Homo sapiens: one gene and its partner. The protein of the gene in region 2 purifies or fractionates together with the protein of the main gene of each other region. This does not show direct contact. Each region holds a gene or a part of one and is shown on either strand. Other genes may lie near its edges.

Region 1 (3,500 bases), on a different chromosome or scaffold from region 2:
GTTCTGGGAACAAGCAAGGCCACTTAGCCTTTCACTGGATTGTGTCTGACCTCTGGGCACCTCCCGATTCGACCTCTTATGGACGTGTTTTTCCATTTGCCGTCTTTATTATTTGCTTTGACTTTCTGTGACCATCTCTTGCTTATTGCATGTCCTGGTCATTGGCTTCCCAGCCCCCGGCAAAGCCTCTGGGAGCCTCTCTCTGGGTTCTATCTGAGACTCTAGCCAGGATTCCTTGCAGGTGACTTCCTGTGCTCCTGGGGTTATATCTCCAATAAGCTCACTCGCTCAGAGCTCTTCAGCACACTGCCCTGCCAGGTAGTTTGTTATGAGGCTAGTCTGTTTGTCTGAAACGTACTTTTAAAACAGAAATGAGTGCAGAATGTCTCTGTCTCTCTTCCCCGCTTGCCCGATCCTCTTTCCTGTCTTCTATTGTTGAAAGGCTCCAGAATTTCATGAAGCCTTTGTGTGTTAACTAACAAATATTTTATCTCACCTAATTTACCTAAATAGGAAAGATTTATCTTCTCCTTCTAACTCTCAAATGAACTTTCAGTCATTATGGGCTAGACCTTTGTTTACTGTGAGATCCCCCATCCGTATGGACAGGATTTCTCATGGCTGAGTATTTCCCCTTCTTTCAGAATGTCCTAGATTTATGTGCATGTCCGTGTTCATGTTGAGAAGGTGTGTGGTGAGATGGTGGAGGGATCCTGCTCTGCTGGCAGGTACAAGCCAAGAACACAGGTTGAAGCTCACAGGTGCAGCATGTGCTCCGACCTCCTGAAATAATGGCCACTAAAGCTGTTTTTGTTGTTTAGGCGGAGGGGTAGAAACCTAAGAGGGAAGACTGGCTTATTATTAATGGCAGTCGACATAGCAGCAGGTGCTTAGTTACTGTCTGATACTTAAAAGATTTTGAGCTTTATTGCCTACATATTTTGAACTAGATTTTTTTTTCAATCCTGAGTTCTAGTTTTTGAGTTTATATTTGTGAAATTGAGTCTTTGCTTGATCATAGAACTTTAAGGGACAGTTATTTGAAATGAAAACTTAGGCATTTAGGACCAGGGGGAGAAATGTTTGCATTTCCCTTTCTGTGATTTGGGCAGCAGCATCTATTCAGTTTTTAAAAGAGCTGTGGAGGGGAGAGAGAAAGGTATCCTGTAATTAACAACACTTCCATTAGCTGTTGCTTTTGGTTCAAGTCAGTGGGTGTTTGATTCGTGAAATAGATACTGTCCTGGAAAATTTTATAAAGCAGAATGTCTTTTTGTGAAGTTGTCTCCTCTCCCTTTACATCATAAAAATGGAAACTTGCTTCTGTAGAACATTTTCTAGTGTTCCTGGGATTCTGATAGTCTTGGACCTGAGCCTTAAATGTTCTTTACAGCATTCTGCCTCATAGAAGCTATTGGCTCCTGACTCACTTTGATTTTTGGAGTCTTAAAAGTGTCCTTTCTAGCAGGTTTTATTGTAGGGACTTGCTCTTTGTTATTTTCCATTGAACATGGCTGCCTATGTTGCGTAGACCAGTGGTTCTAAGGCTTGGGAATCGAGGAAGAGAGTATGGGTGCTGAAATTCATTGCCCTTAATTTTGAAAAACATAGAACACGTATCTTTACCCTTGTTAAAGCTACCATATTTAGGGCTAAAATACTAAATGCCTTTGCTTTTTGCAAGAAAATTTGATAGTATTCTGAATCTCATGCTACTAAAGGCTGCAGTTGGCAAATATGCCTTTGATGCATGTAAAATGGGAACATTATTATTATTTAATATATACCGTTAGGTAAATAAAACTTAGAAATTACAGAGTCTGTAGAAGGGAAATATAAAGTTATTGTTGGTAGTGTTGGTGGCTTAGGCATCTTGGGTAAAGTGGTAGTAAAACCACATCTTAGAAGGCCACCTGGGGAATGTGAACCCGTGAGGCTTTTGTATATTTCTATATATATCTCTATATTTTTTGGTAACCTGTTGCTACTTTTGAAAAGAGGTTCCAAGAGGCAACTTTGTTTTGAAACAGTAAAGAAAACAGTAAAGAAACAGCAAATTAACTTTTGCTTTTTGATTATCTTAAAGGTTGATGAAAATTGTAAATAAGGAAGGGAAAACACATGCAAGCCGGCTTTGGTCAATCAAGGAATAAATAACATGCACAATTTTACTGAATGTGAATGTCTGGTATTCTGAAAAGTCCTCCTGGTGAAGATGGCTGATAAGTGCCTTTGTAGTTGAGTGGAGTCTGAACAACCCTGTCCCGCTGGGCATTCATGGGAAAGCACTGGGCTGGGGTTAGGAAAACTAGACCTGGTCTTAGACATATCATGGAGGTGACCTTGGGCAAGTCAGGTATTTCTTTCAGTCACTTTCCTTGTTCTGAAGTGGGAACTATTCTGTCACTGCCATCTGCATTGGGAGAAATGATATATGTGAGAACACTGGAAAAAATATGTAGAGAAGGCATTTAAGTGACTATATTTTGATTGAATTAAAATTTTAAAATAAATTGTTTTTATGTGGAAGGTCCATTTAGTAGGAACATATCTCAGGAATTATAGTGTTAACTAGTAAACAAAATGACTCAAAATACAAATATTCACATGAAATATAATTGTTCAGGAATGTGTGCTTTGCAAGATTGGAAATCATCCCATTTCAGGAGCTTTTAAACATACAACTTTATTGTGTAAGGGGAAAATAATACATGATCATGTTAAGGAAGTGGACAGTGTGGAAAACTGCAAAGAAGAAACTCAAAGCTGCCTGGAGCTCTGCTCCCCGAAGGTGGCCAGCTTGAGCAGTTTGCACACTCACTACTACAACACCTTGCTCGTGGATGTGCTTTACATCCATGGAAATGTGCTCTGCATGCTGCTCTGTAATCTCCCTTTTTCCCCACTAAACTAGGTGTTGAGGGACCAGTCCTGAATTTCAGTAACTCCTGTTCCCAGGCTGCCTCCTTATTGTATAGAGGGATCCTAATATACGGAATCCTCTTTCCTTCCATGTTTTTAGGTTCCCACCTGCAATTACCTCCTTATGGTAGATCTTTGTAAGTGGGATTCTTGGGTGAAAGGATGTACACTTCTACTTTTTTTTTTTTTTTTTTTTTTGAGATGGGGTCTTGCTGTGTTGCCCAGGCCGTGGTGTGATCTCAGCTCACTGCAGCCTTGACCTCCTGGGCTCAACCAGTCCTCCCTCTGGAATAGCTGGGACCACAGGCATGAGCCACCATGCCCAGCTAATTTTTGTATTTTTTGTAGAAATGTAGTCTCTTGTTGCCCAGGCTGGTCTCGAACTCCTAGGCTCAAGTGATCTGCCCCCTTTGGCCTCCCAGAGTGCTGGGATTACAGGCATGAGCCACTCTAAATTTTGATGGATGTTACCAGAGCACCCTGGGGTGGCACACCAGTGTGTGCATTTCTCGGTTCTTAGGAGTGGAGGAACTTGGTTGCGCCTCATTCACCTCCCTTCCTGAATTTGGCTGTGTACT
Region 2 (4,022 bases):
TTGATTCACTGGAATTGTAAATATAATACAATATTATATTATTGAGTATTATTAAGTATTGAGGTTATAATTTGAGGATGAATTGACACCATTAGCACATCAGGCCATCCCAGCCAAGACTCTATACTGCTCCCCATGTGTTCAGATCATCTTCTACATTTTTATTAGTATGTATTTAAAATTTTTTCTTTGGAGCTATGTCATGTTTTTGGTTAATTCCTAGATATTTTATAGCAGATTTTTTCAAAGTGTGACATGAGGACCTCTGCAGAGTGGTCCCTGAAATCCTTATTTTTCAAATTTACATGTGAGAATATATTTTCATCATATGCTTCAATATATTGCCACAGACTGAATGAAGAGGCAGATGAAACCATCAAGCTGTTTCCTGCCAAGCTAGGACATATGAGGTATTGGCTAAAATGTCAAACAAGGCCACTCTTCTCATGAAATGCTTTTTTCCTAATGTGATTATTTGCCTGAAAATGTTTCCCATATTAGCATTCAATAGACTTACTATTGCTCTTTAGAAATTTTTTTTTGAGACGAAGTCTCACTCTGTTGCCCAGGCTGGAGTGCGGTGGCATGATCTCGGCTCACTGCAATCTCCGCCTCCCGGGTTCAAGTGATTCTCTGGCTCAGCCTCCCAAGTGGATGGGATTACAGGCGCGTGCCCCCATGCCCAGCTAATTTTTGTATTTTTTGTAGAGACCTGGTTTCACCATGTTGGCCAGGCTGGTCTCAAACTCCTGACCTCAAGTGATCCACAAACTTCGGCCTCCCAAGGTGCTGGGATTACAGGCGTGAGCCACCGTGCCTGGGCATGCTTTTTTAAATATACTAATAACTAAATATTTTTAATAATTTTCAATTTTCATTTCCAATATGGTAAAAATGGATAGTTCTAAACCACATAAACAAAAGCCCTTTAGAGTGCTTAGTAACTTTGAGGTGTAAAGGGATCCTGAGCGATGTTTCTTTATATTAATAGTTTGTGTTGCTATTGGGACTGTTCTCTTTCTCTGTATTCAGATTATACTTCTTGAATGCTTGTTACTGGTGTGATACTAGGAGGATCACTGGGGTTTTTGCCAGCTGACCTTGCCTTCTGCATCACTGGGCTCTGTTGCTGTTCTAATACATGATGTCATCATTCTTTCATCTTTTCTAGGTAGATGATCACGTCTCTTCCCTTCCAGTCCTTAGATACCTTAGATAACTTGTTTCTTTCCCTTACCTTATACCATCACTCACGAATTTCAGCTCCATGTTAAAGAACAGCGGAATTAGTGAGTATCCTTGGCTTTTTCTTGACTCTAAAGTGATGCATGGAAAAGTTTCTTCTTCAGTGTTGTATTTGCTAATTTGTGCTATATATTCTATATCTAGTTAAGAAAGTCTCCTTGGATTTTGTGTTGTGAAGTGTTTTTTTTTAAATCATAATAGGAGTAGGGTTTTAGAGAATGTATTTATGCCTTGATTGAAATAATCATGATTTTTCTTTTTAAATCGATTCCTGTGATAAATTGTATGATAGGTTTTCTGATGTTAACCAATCTTGTCATTTATGGAATAAACCAATGCCACTTGATCATGGTAAACTATTTTTAATACACCATTAGATTTGAATAGGTTATGTTTTATTCTGGAATTTTAAATCTGCCTGGATAGGTGAAGTAGGCCTATAATTGTCTCTTTTTCTCGGTGAAGATTCTTGCCTGATTTTAGACAAAGATTGCATTAACTTGAGGAGATGTGTTTGTCAGATTTCCTAACTCTTTTCTATTTTTTTGAAGATCATGTGTAAGATTCTAACCAACTGTTTTTTTTTTTAACAGTTTAATAGTACTTACCGCACTTTAATAAAACCCACTGGGGCAAAGATTTTAGAGAGACGATCTTTGACTACCGTTTCAATTTCTTTAAAGCTTATTTGAGCATATAGCATCCCCTTTTTTCTTGCACCAGTTTTGGAATTTTATATTTTTCTAAGTACTTGTTCATTTCATCTACAATGTAAATTTGTTATTTCTTTTACTATTTTTATTAATTTAAAAATATCAATTATCTCTGTAATTATTTCCCATTTGTAATTTTGGGTTCTGTTATTGGTACCTTCTCCTTGTTTATCTTATTAATTTTTTCCAATAACTTGATTTTGATTTTATTATGCATGATTTTTTTCTTGAGGCAGTTTTTTGATAAAGGTATTTTGAGCTGTATATTTCCTTCAAAGTACTATTTTAGGTTAAAATGTTGACATTCAATATTTAAATTATCATTTAATTCTAAATATTCCTCCATTTTATGATTTACTGTTGAAACTGTAGATTATTTAATTATATAGTTATCTTCCAAACACATGAGATTTGTAAAGCTATTTCTTCCCTATTGATTTTTAATGTTAATTCATTATAATCTATATCATATTATTATGCTTTGGAATTAAATAAATTTTTATATTCTAATGAAATGTCCATTTTTGTAAAAGTCGCTGAGTGGTTGAAAGAGTGTTAATTTTCTTTTTGGTGAAGAGTCTAATATATATAATAGCTAATGTCTGGATATTATTAATTGCTTTGTAATTAATAATTAATAAATTGCATTTCTGAACTCTGTTAAAATTTCTAACTATAATAATCTATCTGCCAGGTGTGGTGGCTCACACCTGTAATCCCAGCACTTTGGGAGGCTGAGGTGGGCGGATCACCTGAGGTCAGAAGTTTGAGACCAGCCTGGCCAACATGGTGAAACCCTGCCTCTACTAAAAATACAAAAATTAGCCAGGCGTGGTGGCACGCGCCTGTAATCCCAGCTATTAGGGAGGCTGAGGCAGGAGAATCAGTTGAACCTGGGAAGGGGAGGTTGCAGTGAGCCGAGATTGAACCATTGCACTCCAGCCTGGGTGACAGAGCAAGACTCCGTCTCAAAAAAAAAATAATCAATCTGCCGTCGATTTGGCTATTTCTATCTATCTCACTGAAGTTGTATTGATTATTTGTTAATGAATATTCCAGGATATATAGTTACATGGATTTATAGTATTGATGCTGTTTGCTATGTTCTTTTAATGGGTATAAATGTTATTCTCTGTCCCTTAGTGTGTGTGCATGTGTGTGTGTGTGAGATGTAAAAATCTTGGTATGCATTGAAAAACTAAACATTTACCTTCATAGTCAAAATAACCAGATAACACTTACAAAAATAATTAGCTGAGCATGGTGGCTCATGTGTATAATCCCACCACTTTGGGAGGCTGAGACAGGAAGATTGCTTGAGGCCAGGAATTAGAGACCAGTTTGGGCAACAAAGCAAAGCCCTGTCTCTACAAAAAAAAAAAAAAAATGTTTAATTAGACAGGTGAGGTGGCACACATCTGTAGTCCAGCTATTTAGGAGACTGAGAAGAAGCATAACTTGAGCCCAGGAGTTCCAGGATGCAGTGAGTCATGATCCTACTACTGCACTGTAACCTAGGGGGCAGAGTGAGACCTTGTCTCTAAAAAATTCACAATTAGATCAATAATAATGCTTTAATATTACTCATACGTAATCATTCATTCATACTGTAATCAAAATGTTCTCTATTGCCTTAAAATACTTACAGCTGGTTATGTAGATCAAGATTCAACTAGTCCCCTATGTTGCATCCAGTTACTATGTCCTGGAATCTCTCTTATCCTTTCAATATACCTCTATCAGTGAAACCAGACCAATTGTTCTGTGGAATTATCCACCTTCTGGATTTTTCTGAAAGCTTTCTCATTATATAATTTAGCTTGTTCCTCCATCTTCTGTACAATGATTATTGTTTTTGACTAGTGGGCATCTTTTCAATCTGGTACCTGCAGGCTTTTAATATTATCCCATTACTTAGTGAAAATTTCATTTTACACTGGTAGAAGATGTCCAAGGCTTTCTTCCATGTCCAGACCACAGATCAGCCATGTGTTAAGGAACTCTACTTCCCTGTAGAGGTGTATTGTATTAGAGACCTTGCGATCATTGTTTCCTTAAATTCCA

Evidence for each region. Proteins that work in one complex are often made in the same cells at the same time.
Region 1: the proteins of OR10H3 (region 2) and CYB5A purify together in Homo sapiens (affinity purification with mass spectrometry, with the first as the bait; one large-scale study listed by BioGRID). This does not show direct contact.

The regions. Positions count from the first base shown.
Region 1 is NC_000018.10:74,285,464-74,288,963, reverse strand, and holds part of CYB5A (cytochrome b5), read left to right. Parts: intron 1-3,500.
Region 2 is NC_000019.10:15,736,763-15,740,784, forward strand, and holds the start of OR10H3 (olfactory receptor 10H3), read left to right. Parts: upstream 1-1,222; 5' UTR 1,223-1,289; intron 1,290-4,022. UniProt on the Homo sapiens protein: Odorant receptor.